2 separate regions of the Homo sapiens genome follow, and region 1 is linked to region 2. Evidence: fine-mapped expression QTL. A gene starts in region 2. The other region holds a variant in brackets. All regions are shown on one strand. Distances are from middle to middle. Region 1 overlaps IL36B (interleukin 36 beta). Region 2 holds the start of IL36B (interleukin 36 beta).

Evidence for each region. PIP is the estimated chance that this variant, and not a neighbour inherited with it, causes the effect. A credible set is the group of variants that fine-mapping cannot tell apart.
Region 1: its variant is the best candidate, but not a certain one, in a credible set for the expression of IL36B in esophagus mucosa (GTEx, PIP 0.68).

What each region holds. Positions count from the first base shown.
Region 1 is chr2:113,027,488-113,037,213 of GRCh38, forward strand. It overlaps IL36B (interleukin 36 beta), which reads right to left. Exons shown (of 5, transcript NM_173178.3): 2 at 4,210-4,279; 3 at 3,561-3,668; 4 at 1,452-1,591; 5 at 1-628. The coding sequence starts at 4,222. The coding sequence ends at 416. Among named protein-coding and RNA genes, the nearest start is that of IL36B, 21 kb to the right of the region's middle. RefSeq lists a silencer at 6,605-6,899. The variant C/G (reference allele first, on the strand shown) is at 5,196.
Region 2 is chr2:113,048,597-113,058,322 of GRCh38, forward strand. IL36B (interleukin 36 beta) reads right to left here and starts at 4,271. Exons shown (of 5, transcript NM_173178.3): 1 at 4,221-4,271.

The DNA of each region.
Region 1 (9,726 bases), 21 kb before region 2:
TTTATCTTTGGGGCACATATTATAATGTTTTATTGAAGAAGTTGTATGAACAAAATGTCATGAATCCACATCTCTACATCATGGGTTGGCAAAAGGAATAGGAATGGAAGGTTGCATGAAGCAGCATTTGGGGGGTTGACTAAACTGGGCATGGCAGCTGAGTGGATGGTGGGGTAAGATCAAGAAAGAATGGAAAGTGATTTTTAGGTTTCATCTTGGGATAGTGACATTCGAGTGAGGGTCTTGGTACAGAAATGGATGTTTGGAGGAGGAGGTGGCTTTTGGATAGTAAGAATGAGGTAAGCTATGGATGGGCTGAACTGCTAGTGAACTCAGTCGCATAATGATCTGTTAAGATGACTCTGACAGCTTGATTCTCTATCCTGGAACCAGCCACCCACAGCCTAGGCTGGATTTATTCCACAGAATCTAAGTAGAAGTTAGTGTTATTAGTTATGCCTCTCTCCTTGGTGAGAAAGATGGGCTGTCCTGATGTGGTGGAGGTGGCTATGAACCAGCCAGGGTAAGAGACTGACTGAAAGACAGAAGTGGAGCCTTCTTTATTGTGGAAAAAGAGAAAGGGCTTCTGTGCTTTCTTCTCCACATACAGGTCCATGATATTTTTTTCCTGGGGGTGGAAAAGAGGCTTGTTAGAGAGGAGGATAGGAGGAGGAAGCTAAAGTAACTCAGCTCTGAGTGTGTAACAGGAGAGGGACTGCTGCCCCCAAAGGAAGGGACAGAGGCTAGGGACAAAGGCAGATGAAGCAGGGCATTAGAGTGTTAAAAACGGGAACTCACTGGGTTCCCATAGCCTGGCTCCACCCCAGGATCCTCTGACACAAGGTGCTCTGACTCTTTGAAGCATCACTGTCTTCCCTGGAACAGAGGGAGGTTGAAATCTCTTTCTTGGTGCTTTTGATATGCATTTGTCTGCAGGTTCAGGCCAGTCTTGCTGCATTCTCAACCTCCAAGTGGGCTTATGCATTACAATTTCCAACAATAGCAGAAGAATTAGCTTCATAACTACAATGTTGCCTTGGTAAGAGTTATGTGTTTATGGTACACAGACCATAACCACATTCAAAATCTTTTTGTCTCCTCTGCTGTGCAGTCACCTTTGGTGTAGTGAGAGCATCCCGTTGTCTTAGAGGATTTCCAGAATGCAGTTAAACAGGACCGAGAATGGAGAAAATACTGTTCTTTGGCTTTTCTGAAACATTCCTGTAAGTGTATTTTCTATCTTTCAGAGGATCTATGCTCTGACATTAAAAGAAGTGTTATATCCATTCCAAAGGCAGCATTTATAGATTCAGGGATCAGCCAGGTCAGAATTATTTCCTTACATTGAATAGTCCAGGGTTGCAAGCATATTATTTTTATTCAGTAACATAGTAAATGAAATAGAAAGTCCATATGACAGTACTTCTCTCGTTAGCTGCACAATCACTCACCTTAAGCTGCAAAGTAGGCTTGCCCTGAATTTCTGCACAGAAGAGACAGAGATCTTTTCCCTTGATTCCCAGGTAAACCATATTACCCTTTTCCTTGTCACTGAATTCTGTGTCTCTACAGGCTATTAAATGAAGAGTGACTGGAAACACAAAGGAAAATGGAGAAGATGTTTCAGTCTTTCTGGTCTGACACTCAGTTACTCCCCCCAGGTAGGGAATAGTGACAGGCTCCTCCCATTAGCCATGTGGCAGAGACCCTCCATCACCCTCCTCAAACCTATTTTGTTTTTCGTCCTTAATAACAGAACCCCAGTTGTCACCAGGACATGTTGCTTCCCAAAAAGAAGTAAAATTTCCTACCACACTTGCAGCAAAATGTGGTCATATGCTTAAGATGTGGCCCATGAGATAAAAGTGGGGAGCTTCTATCTCATGGGCCACAATATGAGATGGGATGGGGGCTACCCAAATAAAGTGAGAGGTGGGTAGTGAGAATGTGATGGCAGTGGTCCAGGCAAGAGATGATGTTATCTTAGAAATCAGGCATGTTTTGCACGTAGACCTACCAATCTTTGCTAATAGATTGGATGGAGAGTGAGGGAAAGGAGGAATCAAGGATGTCTCCTGTATTTCCGGCTCGAGGAAATGGAGTGGACAGAAGTGCCACCAACAGAGAATGTTAGCGGTTTTGAGAAGACAGATCAATAGTCCCACTTGGGATACATGAAGTTAGAGGTATCTGAGAGGACCTCAAGAGGACACGGGTAAACTATTGAGAGAGGAGATCTGTGTTGGAAGTGTAAACGGCAGAGTGAATGAGTGTAGGGGTGATTCATCAATGCAAAAGATCAGCTCATTACCCATTCACAGGGCTTGTAAATGATGACTGGCTGAGCCCTGAGGAACGCCATCATTTGGAGATTTCAGAGACAAAGGAGAGTCATAAAAGAAAATGCAAAAGAGGAGCCAGCAAACCTCATGAGAAGTAATATTCTAATAGAAGGAGAAGATGGGCCAGGTGCGGTGGCTCACGCCTGTAATCCCAGCACTTTGGGAGGCTGAGGTGGGCGGATCACGAGGTCAGGGGTTCGAGACCAGCCTGACCAATGTGGTGAAACCCCATCTCTATTAAAAATACAAAAATTAGCTAGGCACAGTGGTGGGCACCTGTAATCCCAGCTACTCAGGAGTCTGAGGCAGGAGAATTGCTTGAAACCTGGGAGGTGGAGGTTACAGAGAGCTGAGATCGTGCCATTGCACTCCAGCCTGGGTGACAGAGTGAGACTCCGTTTAAAAAAAAAAAAGGGAGAAGATGTAGAGTATTCAAGAAGGAAATGGTCCATTACACTAGTGAGCTAAGGGCCAAATAGCATGGGGACCAAGAAGTGTCCTTTGGGTTTGAGTATTTGAAGGTCATGGGTGAAATAGAAGGTTGGGGGGGAGTAGGAAGAGTAATCCAGATGTTAGACTGCAAATTATGCAGCCAGCTCTCGTGAAGTTTTGCTATGATTGGCACAAGAAAATGTGTTAGTAGGAGGAAAATGTGGGAATCAAGAGAAGGTTGCAGCATGTCTGACAATGATAGAAAGGGTCCAGTAAACAAAGGTGGAATTTGCAGGGAAGCGAGGAATTAAACATTGAAGTTCTGGATACAGGGAAAGAAGCTGAGATGGACTGACTTTTGATGGGAGAAAGGAATATTTCCCCATTATTAGAAAAGAGGATGCCAACTTAGAAAGCTGTGTAGGTTTGGTGGTGGAAAGATGACGGAGTTTGAATCTGAGGACACAGGTAGCAATGGTTGGAACCTGAAGGAGAGAAACTCCAAGGAGAAGGTTAGCTGTTGTTTGAATGGATAAGCCCTTCTAATCTGAAGATATTTTCTTTTGGTAAGAGGAGCTGTCAACCCTTCACACCCTCATTTCTAGATATGGGATTTCCTTTGTGGAAGGGAATCATAGTGTCCTTTCTCACTTGACCTTCCTGTGGCTGTTGGGCTGGTGCCTAGAAGTGGGTGAGGTCCAGGGCCAGGCTTATGCAAGCTCAGCCTCATTCCTGGTGAAGATGGCATCACCTCAAGAAGCAACAGTGGGTTTGATTGTCACTCACCAGGCTTAATGCTGCGGCTAAGAGGAGCTGCTATTAAAGAATTTCCACTCAGGACCCACACCATCTGTCGAGAATCACGAATAGCATAGGATTTGGGTGCTGCCTCCCCTGCCAGATGACAAAAATGCACAAAATACACGTGAGGTTATCAACTTCAGGACTCCAGTTGCATCCTGGTATTAATGGCTTTTGAGTTTCTGGAGAGAGTCTCATTGCTCTGAGAAGTAGTGGCTATAACGATAAATGGAGGGGAAATAGGGCAGGGACTAGTTTGTGAATCAAAGCATTTGAAAGGATCTACGTGCAGTCACAGTCCCAAGATTCACCTTTTTCTAGGGCTATTAGTGACTTGTCTTTTTCCGAATGATAAAATGTCTAGGTGGTAAAAAAAACCCCATAATATTTAAATTAGTTATCCATATGTTGTTTTTTAAAATCCTCTCATCAAAATAAACAAGCAATTCTAAATACAGATAATAATAAAAGAGCTAGGTGCCCCGAGATTTTCAAAGGCCGTTTTAGGAACTGAGTGTTTTAGCAAGAGCAAATACATTTATAGCTTAGCAAATGATAGGGGTCCTTCCATCCTATTGTCTTTGATGAGGTCAGATGGAGATATTTCCAAGCTGATTTGCAATTCACCACTTACGTTGTGGGTTCATGATGTCTTCAGAGCCTTTTGTGAAGAGAACAAGATAGATCAGATGGTGGTGAGGAGGCTGTTAACAGTTGGCCATGTGAGAGAAGGAGAGAAGAAACATGTTATGCTTTTTTCTCCTCTCCCCCTAAAATTTTACTGTAAAAATTCTTTAGAGAGAGCTGCCCTGAGAGCCTCTCCTAGATGCATATTTGAGAATAAGGATGGGTACAGGACATTTCAAGGCCAGAAAACCCTAAAAGGAAGCTCCCATCTCTGCTGTGGCTGGCACAGTCCTGCTTCTCTAGGCTGTGATGGTCTTGGTATGCTTTCCATTAATCACATCTGGGATTGTTAGGAGGTTCCAACACATCACCACGGGCACCTTCTAGTACTCTGAGTCTCTGGGTTGAGAGGAAGGAGGGAGAGACAGAGTGCGTGTGTGTGTCTGTGTGTGTGTGTGTGTGTGTGTGTGTGTGTGTGTGTATCTCCATTTTAGCCCTCCACACAGCAGGTTAATCACCACTTTTCCTGACTTGAAGCTGAACACTCCTAAGTAATTTGTAGCTAACCTGCCTCACTGAGCCCATCTTCTTCCATTCCTCATCCAAAGAGACATCTGTAAGGATCATGCACATGGCCACTGAGGGCCCCACAAGGTGCTTTGACTATTAGGGATCATCTGCCTCTGGTTTTCTAGTTAGGGCACCAGAACAGTCCCCAAGAATATCACAGACACTCCACAATGAGAACCAGTTGTTCACAACCCTCCTTCTCTCAGGATCCTTGATGTGTGATTCAATAGTTGTCCCTACACAGTGGATAAGCAGATCACCAACCTGCACCCTTGTAAGCAGCCCTGGATCCTTCAGTACTCTGTACCTTTGACAAGACTCCCAGAGGCACTTCGAGGCTAAACACAGAGACATGAAAGAAGTTCCCCATACCTGGGTTCTAAGCAGCAGAAGTTACCTTTAGCAAGAGATGCTTTTGTCCCT[C/G]GTTTCAAAGTCAAGGCTCTAGTTGCATGTAAGTGGTCTAGCTGCATGAAAAGCTGGTCCAGGACTCCCAGGCCCCTTAATGACCAAGGAAAGAGCATTCTTTCCTGCCCCTGGGTGTGTTCATTTTGGAAAGAAAGCTGATATGGCCCAAAGATCTCTTGAGGCTCTGGAGGACTGACAGTGGAGCAACACAAGCATGACTGGTCTGTGCTTCCTGATTAACAAGAGCAGAGGCAACATCAGAAAACAGCAATGAGGAAATGCGGATTAGGCCAGATGCTGAGTTGAGGAGAGTGCCTTTACTGGTCTTCCTTGGAGGCAGAGGTGTGTCTCCCTTGGAGGCAGAGGTGTGGCTCTCTTGACCCACTAAACTGCATGAAGCCATTGCTGTGTTTGCATCTGATGTTAGGCCAATCACAGTACTCCTTGCAGGAGTTTTACACACCCACCATGTCACATTTATATGGTACAAATATTGAGAGCTTATTCTGTTTCTGCTAAAGTTGTAAGAGCTTTACCTGAGTAACCTTTTAATCTTCACGCTACATTTACTTTTTTTTTGGAGATGGAGTCTCGCTCTCGCTCTGTCGCCAAGCTGGAGTGCAGTGGCACGATCTCGGCTCATGGAAACTTCCGCCTCTCAGGTTCAAGTGATTCTCCTGCCTCAGCCTCCCGAGTAGCTGGAACTACAGGCACCCACTGCCACACTGGGCTAGTTTTTTGTATTTTATATTTCAGTAGAGAAGGGGTTTCACTGTGTTGCCCAGGCTGGTCTCAAACTCCTGAGCTCAGGCAGTCCACCCGCCTCGGCCTCCCAAAGTACTAGGATTACAGGCGTGAGCCACTGCACCCGTCCCACACACAACTCTTTAGGGGCCATTAATTTTATTTCTCATGTAAGAAAACAGCGGCTCTGAGGGATGACAGAATGTACCCAAAGTCATACAGCTACTAAGAAATCTAGCCAAGTTAGAAGCCAAGTCTCTCTATTCTTAATGATTATGTGACATGCCTCCCCTGGGTCATAGTCTCCTGCATACTGCACTAGCCGGAACACAGTCTTGCATTCAGTTGAGGATACTGAAAAATCTATAATGTGTCCAGGAGAGGAGAGGAGAGAACTTGGAGGTCTTGTGGCTTTCTAACTCTGAATTAGGAGTCAGACGCGGCTTCAATGTTGGCTATGAAAGAAAATCATTACTCTTGAAACCGAATATTATTGGTCAGTCCTACTCCCAATCACTCTTTGTGGTTCTGCTCTTGGAAATCCACCATTGACTCTATCTTCTGGAGCATTGCAATAGTCTCCTTGCTTCTGTTCTTACCTCCCTAGAGTCAGATGTCCACCTAGCAGTGACCAGAATCAAAGATGTAAATAAAGTCGTATGACTCTCTTGCACAGAACCCTCTAATAGCTTTGCTTTATGCCCCAAATAACCAAAGCCCTCACCAAGCCCACATGATCTGGGTCCTCTTTATCTTTCTGCTGCCTTCTATCCCTGCCCATCTGACTTCCCTGCTCTGGATGTACTGGATTCTGCTGATTTTCTTGCCCTGCAAGCTTATCTTCGCCTGCAGGGAGTTTTTCCTGTTCCTCTGAAGGAACAGCCTTCCCCAGGTCAACAAGTGGTCCACTCCCTCGCTTCTTCCATGCATATGCAAAAAAGCCAACTTCTCAATAAGGTATTCCCCAGCCAGCCTATCTCCAAGAGTCCCTCACCCATGTCCTAGCCCCTTATTTTGCTCAACTATTTTCTTCATAAAATGTATGCTTCCATGGTTTTGGAAAATGTATTTATCCATCTATTTATTTATTTATTATCTCCACTACCAAAATGCCAGTTCTGTGGGGCCAGGGAACCTGTTTTGTCTTGAGGCCAGAGAACTATGTGCTCAGTGGCAGGAATGGTGCGGACCTCTTATGGGAACTAACAAATATTTTTTGATAAACAAATAAATGTATGTAGTATCTCATGAATAAGAGGAAGACAGGGAAGAGAAAAGGGGAGTGGGATGCTTTGTAGGAAAGGCATCACTTGTGGTGAGAGGTGAGTTCTTGACCTCCTCATGGAGAAGGGCCAGGGGATGCTCTCCTATCGCCAGGATGGAGCCTCCCAAGAGAATCACTCAAACAGTCAGTGGGACTGGCAGCTTTGCCCCCATCTGGATGACTGGCACACCTAGAGACCCACAGGCTCACCTTGGCTCCTTGGCCAGGGCAGTGTGTGGTGAGGGAGTTCAGGGAGACCCTGATGTGATTTTACTGAAGTGTGGTGTACTCTAGAGATACAGACAAGGCTCTAACCTTCCCAGCACCAGCAGAGCCTAAAGAAACTATGGGGTCACATTCCTTGGAAGAACTTGGCAGAAACTCCCACCCCAACTCAGAACTTTTAGACATTTAAAGTGTGGAAGACTGAAGGCTCTCATGACTCCATGCAAAGAAGCCAGTGGTTGGCAGAAGGGTTGGAACCATGAGATTTTCCCCAAGGGATCAATGGGTCAAGTGATAGGATGTCCAACCATGAAAAGAATTTGAATCTGGGATCTATTCAGGTCCTGAGAGTGCTTAATGATGAAGACAGACAGGGTGACACTGATGGTCAGTCACCCTGTCCAAGAAACTACACACACGGTGTACTGAAATAAAATGAAATCAGACTGTACCAGAAACTGTGGGAACCCCTCCCTCTGCAAACCCAAAGCCAGTGCTGCAAGAACTCTGCCTTTCCTGTGCTTTTTCTTGGCCCCTAACATCTCAGCACTGGTAGGGGTACATGATCCATTCGCCTATGCCCACCATCTTGAGAAGCTCTTCTGAAAAAAAAAATAATAATAGCAACAAGAAAGTTGTGAAGTTTGGCAGGGATGTTGTTAGAGGACCTGATATCCAGTGAGAAAAAAAGCAAGTGAATATAGCAACATCGAAAGTAGAAATTAAAGAAGAAGAAAAGGAAAAAACAAAAATATTTTGATGTTTATACCTAGATGACTTGATGGTAAATAAATGGGTGAGATAAATAAATGAGTTAGAAACAGAAATAGATTAAGAAGAAGGCAATCCCAAGAGTCATGGAATAATGGCTTCACCCAGGGAGGAGGTGTGAAGATTCCCAGGATGAAGCTGTGTCTCTGACATAGACAATGCCTTTCCTGACTGATCAGAGGATTGAGATAAAAGAAGGGAAGTGGTTGCCTCAGGAGAGTAGGATTTGGTGGGGAAGAAATGGTCAGGGCTCTGTTGTTGGTAATTTTGCACTTTTCGATTCTTTTGTTTTTTTCTTTTCTTTTGCTCTGTCGCCCAGGCTGGAATGCAGTGGCGCGATCTTGGCTCACTGAAACCTCCGCCCCACCCGGGTTCAAGAAATTCTCCTGCCTCAGCCTCCCAAGTAGCTGGAGTTACAGGCATGCACCACCACACCTGGCTAATTTTTGTATTTTTTTTGTAGAGATGAGTTTTGCCATGTTGGCCAGCCTGGTCTTGAATTCCTGACCTCAAATGATCTGCCTGCCTCTGCCTCCCAAAGTGCTGGAATTCAGGCGTGAGCCAGCGTACCAGGCCTGATTCTATATTATTTTTAAAGCAATATACATGTGTTGTTATAAAAAAAAAGATTAAAACTAATTAGTCACGTTCCATGCCCTCATTTTATTTATCTGAAAACACCTTGCTTTTTTTTTTTTTTTCATGAAGTGGGTGCTGAGTCTCCTTTAAGGAGATAAATATAGGAAACTTAGGAGGGCTTATTCAGACACACCCCATGGCATCTTTTCTCTTTTTGCTCAGAGAGAAAAACCAAATATCTGATGAATGCAGCTGAGGGCATCCAACCCTTGATATGAAGCTCAGTTTTCATTCCCAGGTTGGAGATTCTGCCTCAGTCTCTGTCCTTCTGGTGACAAAGTCAGTAATGAGCAGGAATTTCCTCTTCCTGCCCCCAGGAAGAACACATTTCTGTGGGTGCTAAAATAGCTTAATTCCTGGATAGGCCAAACTCAGGCCTTCAGAAGCCTGTGAGGCATAGAATAAATAAGCATTTGATCCTGCCCAGAGCGCCTTATCCTGATTCTTTAAGCTGAGAGCCCAGATATTCCTTTCCTGGTGTGAAGGTAGGTGGATGATGTCGGAGGCCCAGCCTTGGTGATTCAGCCAGTCAGAAGGGACTGCATCTGAGCCAGACAAAATCTAGGACGGCACTGCCCTGTGTAGCCTGCCTATCTTGCCTGCATCCTGCCTGCAGGGAATTTGCGCTGCTCCGATTCTCCAGTCTGGGGAATGTAATAGAGTCACAGTAACTGTGGTAGCACAAGTGCTAAGATCCAGTCGAAACTATGGAGTTGAGGGAACCTTGGCTCTGAATTTCTCCTTTGACTCTTAGGTGCGCTCAGAAGTGCTTAAGAACCAGGTGGCCGCTCCCTCTGTACCTTCCCATGATGAGCGTGAGCATCTGTGTGGATCAGCGACCACAGTTGGAGGTACCTATGGCTCTCAACGTCCACGAGGCTGTGTGTCCACCTATCCATGTCCTTC
Region 2 (9,726 bases):
ACAAGCTCAAAGCAAGGAGTGGGAAAGAAATTTATAAGATCGGAGCAAAAATCAATAGAATTGATTGCAGAAAGCAGTAGAGAATATTAATGAAGCTAAAATCTGATTATTAAAAAATCAAGAAAAATGAGAGGAGACTAATTACCAGTTTCATGAATAGAAGAGGGACATCACTACTGATTACACATACTTTAGAAGGGTAATAAGAGGATACTACAAACAAATTTATGCCCATAAATTTAACATCTTAGATAAAATGGACCAACATTTGGAAAGCCAAACTACTAAAACCCACAGAAGAAGTAAGTAACCTGAGTAATCCCATTTCTATGAAAGCAATTGAATTTATTTTAAAAATGTTTAATAATTTAAAATATGCTAGCTATTGTTCTTCTTAATGATGATGAAGAGGAAGCATCACACAATAATGATACTGATGATGGCAGTTGTGTTGGTGGGTGATGATGGTGATGGTGGAGCAAGTGGTGATGGTGCACATGCAAAAGAATGAAATTAGACCCTTATCTTATACCACATAAAAACATCAACTCAAAATGAATCAAAGACCTAAATGAAAGTTAAAGCCCTTAGAAGAAAACATAGGGGAAAGCTTTATCACATTGGATTTGGCAATGATTTCTTGCATATAGCACCAAAAAATAGGCAACAAAAGCAACAAAAGAAAAAATGGATACATTGGACTACATCAAAATTTAAAACTTCTGTACCTCAAATGACACTATTAATAGTATGTTAAGGTAACTCAGGGAATGGGAGGAAATAGGTGAAAGTCATATAAGGGGTTGACATCTAGAATATATATAGAACTCCTGTAACTCAACAACAAAAAAGCAAATAGCCCAGTTAAAAAATGGTCAAATGACTTGAGTAGACATTTCTCCAAATAATATATACTAATAGCCAATAAGCACATGAAAGGGTGCTCAACATCCCTAATAATTAGGAAAGCGTAAATCAAAACCACAATGATATACTGCTATTTCACACCCATTAAGATGGTTGCTATTAGAAAAAAATAGAAAATAACAAGTGTTGATGAGAATGTGGAGGAATTGGGTGGGGCGTGATGGCTTATGCCTGTAATCCCAGCACTTTCGGAGGCCGAGGTGGGCGGACCACCTGAGGTCAGGAGTTTGAGACCAGCTTGGTCACCATGGTGAAACCCTGTCTCTACTAAAAATACAAAAGTTAGCCAGGCATGGTGGCGTGCACCTGTAATCCCAGCTACTCAGGAAGCTGAGGCAGGAGAATCACTTGAACCTGAGAGGCAGAGGTTGAAGTGAGCTGAGATCACGCCACTTCACTCCAGCCTGGGCGACAAGAGTGAAACTCCGTCTAAAAAAAAAAAAAAGAATGTGGAGAAACTGGAACCCTTGTGCACTGTTGGTGGGAATGTAAAATGGTGCAACCACTGTGGAAAACGGTATGGTTGTTCCTCAAAAACTTAAACATAGAATTATCCATATGATCCAGGAGTTCCACCTCTGGGTATATTCACAAAGAATTGAAAGCAGAGACTTGAAAAGCTATTTGAACACCCATGTTCATAGCAGCATTATTCACAATACCCAAAAGGTGATGGCAACCCAAGTGTCCATCGACAGATGAACGAATAAAGAAAATGTGGTACACACACCACACAGCCTTAAAAGGAATGAAGTTCTGATACATGCTACAACATGGATGAATCTTGAAAGTAAACTCAGTTAAGTGAAATAAACTAATAACAAAAAAAAAAAAATACCGTGTAATTCCACGTATATGAGGCGCCTAAAGCAGTCAAATTCATAGAGATGGAAAGTAAAATGGTGGTTGCCAGGGGCCGCTGGGGAGAGGGGAGTGAGGAGTTATTGTTTTGTAGGTACAAAATTTCTGTTCTGCAAAACGAGAAGAGTTCTGGAGATGGATGGTGGTGATGGTTGCCCAACAATGTGAATGTCCTTAATGCCACTGAACTGTACACTTAAAAATGGTTAAAATGGTAATTTTTATATTATGTATATCTTACCACATTTAATAATAACAATTTAAAGATATATCAAAAGAGGCAAATGTGCAGACATCTATCGAATAAATAAGTTATCAAAAACAGCAAAAAGGGACAGATAATAATAATAAAAAAAGATAGTTTCTGTTTTTGAGGAGCCCACGAAAGCCACACATCACTGAGAAAGCCGAGGAGAGCTGGGGCTTTCTCAGGGGTAGCCCTGGTGCAGCTCCCTTGCCTCGTCTAGTCCTGCTTTAGATGCTCGCTACTCGGGTGAGGGCTGCAGATCCTTGTGGAAAGAGACAGAAAAAGAGGAAGAGAGCTTGAATTGGAGGCCGTGCCTCTCAGCGTGGCCTCCCGATCCTTGAATCGGAGGCCGTGCCTCTCAGCCTGGCCTCCTGATCCTTGAATCGGAGGCCGTGCCTCTCAGCGTGGCCTCCCGATCCTTGAATCGGAGGCCGTGCCTCTCATCGTGGCCTCCCGACCTAGCCTGGTGGAGAGCGCCCCCTGCCGGTAGATCCTGGCCCGGCACACTGAGAGCGGCAGGCCCCGCCGGAGGGGCCAGCGCAGGACCGGGGAGAATGGAGCTCAGCCAGTGCCTAGCCCTGGGTTTATTTCCAGTTTCCTGCTGGAGAGCAATGGTCAAACTACACAGTCCGGCGGAGGCGAGTCCGCAGGCTCTGGAAGCCTCTGAGGCACAGACGAGGAAAGCGCCTGAATGTGGATCTGGGGTACAGAAGTTGCCGGTGGCTCTGGCCCTGTTCATGGGACTCAGTCAGCAGAAACTGTGGGTGTGACACACACCGGAGCCTCACCTGCCCTGTGGACTGCCCACACTCTCTCTCAGAGCCTCACCTGCCCTGTGGACTGCCCACGCGCTCTCTCAGATCCCGGCCTGTGCACCTGGCCCTTCCCCAGCCTCCCAGGCAGAGGGTGCCACGGGGCTGAGGGCAGGCAACAAAGCCACTGGCCTCTGGCTCAGCACCCAGCTGCAGCCCTGTGGATCCTGGCCCACAGCCTCCCCATGACTTCACTGGCATCCAGGGTTTCTCGAAAGCGCTATGAGCCAAGTGGTACCCTTCCCCTCTGATGTGGCTGGGTTGGAGAGGGAGTCCTGGATGCAGCTGGAGGTCCCCTTCTGCTCACGGCTCCCTGGAGGCTGTGTCTGTGCATGCACACCATCACTCCTACTCCAGGAAGGACTTTCACGGATGTCCTCAGCTACCAAAAGTCACTCCAGGGAGTGATAAATTCCGTCCAACCCAAAGTGTGCCACACTCTGCTATGGGGCACTCCTTTGTCTCTGCACCAACTCTGTTGGTTTCTATTATCTTCTCTCCCTCTCTCCTTTTTTTTTTTTTTGAGACAGAGTCTTGCTCTGTTGCCCAGGATGAAGTGCAGTGACATGATCTCAGGTCACTGCAACTTTCACCTCCTGGGATTCAAGTGATTCTCGTGCCTCAGCCTCCCAAGTAGCTGGGATTACAGGTGTGCACCACTATGCCCAACTAGTTTTTGTATTTTTAGTAGAGACGGGGTTTCTTCATGTTTGCCAGGCTGGTCTTGAACTCCTGGCCTCAAGTGTTCTGCCCGCCTCTACCTCCCAAGGTACTGGGATTACAGGTGCGAGCCACTGCACCTGGCTGGTTTCTATTATCTTCTTAGAAAGCCTGTTGGTCCTTTGTGCAGACTCCTTCATTCCCCCAGCCTCGAGCTCTGCCTTCTATTCCAAATGTGTGAATTTATAAGCATTACACAGCTTATTTTTCATATTGGGGAATGGGTGTGAATTAGTATGAAGTCAAGCTGCAAGAGTACCAATACCAGGTCCATCTCTTACTAGTTTTGTGACCTTAGGTGACTTAGCCTCTCTAATTTTCGTTTTGTCTTATCAGTTAAATGGGAATAAGCATAGCACTTACCTTAGAGGACTGATGTGGGAATGAGGCAACATAATAGCTATATTGCTTTTATCACTGTACCTGACAGAGTGAATGTGTAACAAACGTTAACCTTTCTTGTCAGCAAATTTAAAACCTCACAGCATATTCTGCACTCATTACGCCAGTCTGTTGGAGCTGAGTCCATGCCTTTTTCTCTCTGCGTTGGGAAAGCCATGCTAGCTACATGCATTTTTGGTCATGAACCAGTCTTAGATTTAAGTCAATGTAAATTTGGCCTTTGCCGTGTTCTTAATGTCTTCTTTACATACCTAGGAAAAGTGAAGGAGAGGTGAGAAAGACAGAGTGGGGAGGAACCCGTGTCTGTGGGTTTGTGCTAGATGCCAACCTGGCTCTTCACATCCTCTGTCTCATCCAGTCAAGCAGCCACACTGAGTCCCCCAGCATGAGAACAGCTTCCACAGAGCAGGAGATTCTGGGTCTGAAATGAGGAGAGAGCTCCAGTCCCACCAGTGCCCTAGAGCATACCTCAGAATGCTCCTTTCTCCTGGTGGGATCCGTGGAGTCTGCCTGCTCTTCCAAGGATGCCTCAGCCTTTTAAGTAAGGCCTAGGGAGGGGCCCTGAAACTACCAGGACCTGAGGAGAAGCAGGATTCTCAGCGTGATTTCACACCACCCTAAGCCGCCGGGAATACTTGCTGCTCATTATCTCTCTATTGGAGTCTCATGGAACACATTGTGGGAAGTGCTATAGAATTCTAGGGACATAGTGGGCACCAAGTGAATATCAGTTACTTTAATTATTACTAAATTTATCTCCCTAACAGGAATTTACTATCTTACCATAATAAACTCTGCTTACATTCTCATATAGGTGAATACACCTGCCCTAAGTCATCTCTACAGCAAGAGCAGAGGCCACATCTACCTCCAGGGTTATTGCCATTCTCACAAAGGTGAGGATAAGTCACCACAGGGAACATTGCTTCTCTGCAGGCTGTGACACTTTCCAGGGCATATAAAGCCCATGAAGAACTGAGATGTTTGCTGAGAAGAGAGCATACCCACCGAAGACAGTGGAAAATGAAAAAACAACAGGAGTAGAAACTTCCCAATAGTGATGTCAAACTGTATTAGTTACTAATTGCTGTGTAACAGCAAACCTAGCGACCTAAAACAAACAAAAAAATTATTTAACAAAGACAGAGTCGGGAATAAGAAAACTGGCTTGGCTGGAGGGTTCGGCTCAGGGTGTCTGATTAGGTTGTAGGAAAGATGTCAGCCAAGGTTTCAGTCATCTGAAGGCTTGACTGGGACTGAAGGATCTGTTTGTAAGATTGCTCACTCAGACCATTGGCAGGAAACCACAGTTTCTCACCATGTGGGCTTCTATATAGGGGTGCTTGAATATCCTTATTAGATGGCAGCTGGCTTCATCCAGGTGAGTGTTCTAAGAGCAAGGAGGAAACTGCAATGCCTTTTATGACCTGGTCTCAGAAGTGACATGCTGCCATGTTCACCATGTAACATACTCATTAGAAAAAAGTCACTAAGTCCAGTCCATACTCAAGAGAAGGGCAGTTAAACTTCCTCTCTGTATCAGTCTGTTCTCACACTGCTAATAAAGACATACCTGAGACTGAGTAATTTGTAAAGGAAAGAGATTGAATTGACTCACAGTTCCACATGGCTGAGGTGGCATCACAATCATGATGGAAGATGAAGGAAGAGCAAAGTCACATCTTACATGGCAGGAGGGAAGAGAGCTTGTGTAGGGGAATGCCCCTTTATAAAACCATCAGGTCTCATGAGACTTATTCACTAGAATGAGAATAGCACAGGAAAGACCTGCCCTGATGATTCAGTTACCTCCCACTGGGTCCCTTCCATGACATATGGGAATTATGGGAGCAACAACTCAAGATGAGCTTTGGGTGGGGACACAGCCAAACTATATCATTCCACCCCTGGCTCCTCGCAAATCACATGTCCTCACATTTCAAAACCAATCATGCCTTCCCAACAGTCCCCCAGGGTCTTAACGCATTTCAGCATTAACTCAAAATTCCACAGTCCAAAGTCTCATCTGAGACAAGGCAAGTCTCTTCTGCCTATGAGCTGTAAAATCAAAAGCAAGTTAGTTACTTCCTAAATACAATAGGAGTACAGGCATTTGGTAAGTACAGCTATTCCAAATGGGAGAAATTGGCCAAAACAAAGGGGCTACAGGCCCCATGCAAGTTCAAAATCCAGCGGGGCAGTCAAATCTTAACGCTTCAAAATTACCTCCTTTGAGTCTCTGTCTCACATCCAGGTCATGCTTATGCAAGAGGTGGGTTCCCATAGTCTTTGGAAGCTCCACTCCTGTGACTTTGCAGGGTACAACCCTCCTCCTGGCTGCTTTCATGGGCTGACACTGTCTGTGGCTTTTCCAGGCACACAGCATAAGCTGTTGGTGGATCTACCATTCTGGGATCTGGAGGACAGTGGCCCTCTTCTCACAGTTCCACTAGACAATGCCCCAGTGGGGACATTGTGTGGGGGCTCCCACCCCACATTTCCCTTCTGCACTGCCCTAGCAGAGGTTCTCCATGAGGGCTATGCCCATGCAGCACACCTCTGCTTGGACATTTAGACATTTCCAAACATCCTATGAAATCTAGGCGGAGGCTCCCAAACCTCAGTTCTTCACTTTTGTGCACCCACAGGCTCAACACCACATGGAAGCTGCCAAGGGTTGGGATTTACACCCTCTAAAGCCATGACCCAAGCTGTACCTTTGCCCTCTTTAGCCAAAGCTGGAGTGGCTGGGATGCAAGTCATCCCAAGTCCTGAGACTACACAAAGCTGCCAGGCCCTGGGTCTGGCCCATGAAACCATTTTTTCCTCCTGGACCTCCAGGTCTGTGATGGGAGGGGCTTCTGTGAAGACCTCTGATATGCCCTGGAGACACTTTCCCCATTTTCTTGGTGAAAAACATTTGGCTCCTCTTTCCTTATGCAAATTTCTGCAGCCAGCTCGAATTTCTCTTCAGAAAATAGGTTTTTCTTATCTCATCTTCATGCTGCATGTTTTCCAAACTTTTATGCTCTGCTTCCCTTTTAAATGTAGGTTCCAATTCCAAACCATATATTTGTGAATACATAAAACTGAATGTTATCAGCACCCAAATCACCTCTTGAATACTTTGCTGCTTAGAAATTTCTTTTGCCAGATGCCCTAAATCATCTCTTTCAAGTTCAAAGTTCCACAGATTTCTAGGTCAGGGGCAAAATGCTGCCAGTCTCTTTGCTAAAGCATAACAAGAGTCACCTTTGCTTCAGTTCCCAACAAGTTCCTCATCTCCATCTGAGACCACCTCAGCCTGGACCTTATTGTCCATATCACTATCAGCATTTTGGTCAAAGCTATTCAGTGAGTCTCCAGGAAGTTGCAAACTTTCCCACATCCTCCTATCTTCTTCTGAGCCCTCCAAACTGTTCCAACCTCTGCCTTTTACCCAGTTCCAAATTGCTGGGTAACAGGCAAAGTGTTAAAGTGCTGAAATGCCAATAGTGATGTCAAGGTGTGTTAGTTACCAATTGTTGTGTAACAAAGTATCAGCAAAGTTAGCAGCTTAAAACAAGAAAAAATTATTATTTAACAAAGGCTGAGAGTCAGGAATGAGAAAACTGGCTTGGCTGGAGGGTTTGGCTCAGGGTGTCTCATTAGGTTACAGGAAAGATGTCAGCCAGGGTTGCAGTCATCTGAAGGCTTGACTGGGGCTAGAGGATCTGCTTCTAAGATTGTGCATTCACAGACTGTTGGCAGGAAAAAATAGTTTCTCACCACGTGGGCCTCTCCATAGGGCTGCTTGAGTGTCCTTATCACATAGTGGCTGGCTTTGTCCAGGTGAGTGATCTAAGAGCTAGGAGGAAATTGCAATGCCTTTTATGATGCTGCCATGTTCATCATGTAACATAGCGCCCCACTCCCAGTATCAATTTACTATATCAGTCTGTTCTCATGCTGCTAATAACAACATAACCAAGACTGTGTAATTTATAAAGGAAAGAGGTTGAATTGACTTAGAGTTCCACATGGCTGGGGAGGCCTCACAATCATGGTGGAAGATGATGAAAGAAGAGCAAAGTCATGTCTTACATAGTGGCAGGCAGGAGAGCTTGTGTGGGGAAATTCCCCTGTATAAAACCATCAGATCTTGTGAGACTTATTCACTATCATGAGACCAGCACAAGAAAGACCTGCCCCCATGATTCAATTACCTCCCACTGGGTTCCTTCCATGACACGTGGGAATTATAGAAGCTACAATTCAAGATGAAATTTGGGTGGGAACAGAGCCAAACCATATCACCTTCTTAAAGATGAAGTTTCCAAGAATTTATGGACATATTTTAAAACAGCCACACATGGTTTGCGAATTGGCAGCATTGTCTTTAGGTAGTGCCAAAGTTTATTTTTCAGAAGTTCAAAACTTGACTCTCATACACACATATAGTGAGCATGTGTCAAAGATTTACTATTTTTCATAAGTGAGGGAATCAGCAAGATTATAAAGCTGATTATCAAAAGATAATTCAGGGAATGGAGGCTTATACCGTCAGTCAAGAAATAAAGGCTGAAATAGGTTGGCTAAGTTACGTTTTAAAGACAGCTTTATGACTTGTGAGGCAATAAAACTGCACCCTTTGGAGTTATCTTTTCTATCAGACAGGAATAATGTGTAATTTATCAATGTTCTCTTAGTTCATGGCTAATTTCACAGAGTCTGAGACCTAATTAGTAAGTCAAGCAAAGGGATAGGTCCAGAGAGAACTTATTGTTGGTGAGGCCTGTTTGATAATGTTTTCATATAATATTGACAGTATACACAGTCATAGTTTCATTTTACTTATTATTTATTTATTTATTGAGGCAGAGTCTAGCTCTCTCTGTCATCCAGGCTGGAGTACAGTGGCTCAATCTTGGCTCACTGCAACCTCCACCTCCCAGGTTCAAGCAATTCTCACACCTCAGCCTCCTGAGTAGCTTGGATTACAAATGTGCACCACCAACCCGGCTAATTTTTGTGTTTTCAGTAGAGATGGGGTTTTGCCACGTTGGCCAGGCTTGTCTCATTTCATCTTATTTCTACTGTCATTCCATTTGGTCAATTTGTAATTTAATAATTTTGTACAAGGCAGTTTCTACATTAATTTTATTTTTCTGAAAAGTGTCTATCATATTAGTGGCATTATGAAAATCGTAGATTATTTTCTGTGTTTTGAACAACTTGATATTTTATTTATTCTTGAACACTTGTAGGACCTCTTGGCTCATATGTCTGAATACCATTTCTTTAAAATGTACGCTTTAACATGTACACATATGTAACAAACCTGCACATTGTACACATGTATCCTAAAACTTAAAGTATAATAATAATAATAAAAGAAAAAAGAAAAATAAAACTTAAAAAAAAAGTGTATGCTTTAACAATAAATTATTAATAAATAGTTATCTGTGTTATTCAAGATATAATTAAATTGTTTTTTGTGCACTGACCCTTACCTTTATTTCAGATCCATCACAGAGAGTGCATGGAGGTATTTAAACTGCATTAACTGTTTCACAATTAAGTATTATCTTATCAATTAGGTATTCAAGAAAGATCACTTACAGAATTATAGATGGCATGAGCTAGATTTTACTTTCTAAAGAAATAACCAGATACATGAGCAAAGATGTTAATACAAAGATGTTTGTCACAACATGGTTTTCAATAGCAAAAAAAGAGAGAAAAATATATAAAAGACAAATAACAGTGGATAGGTTT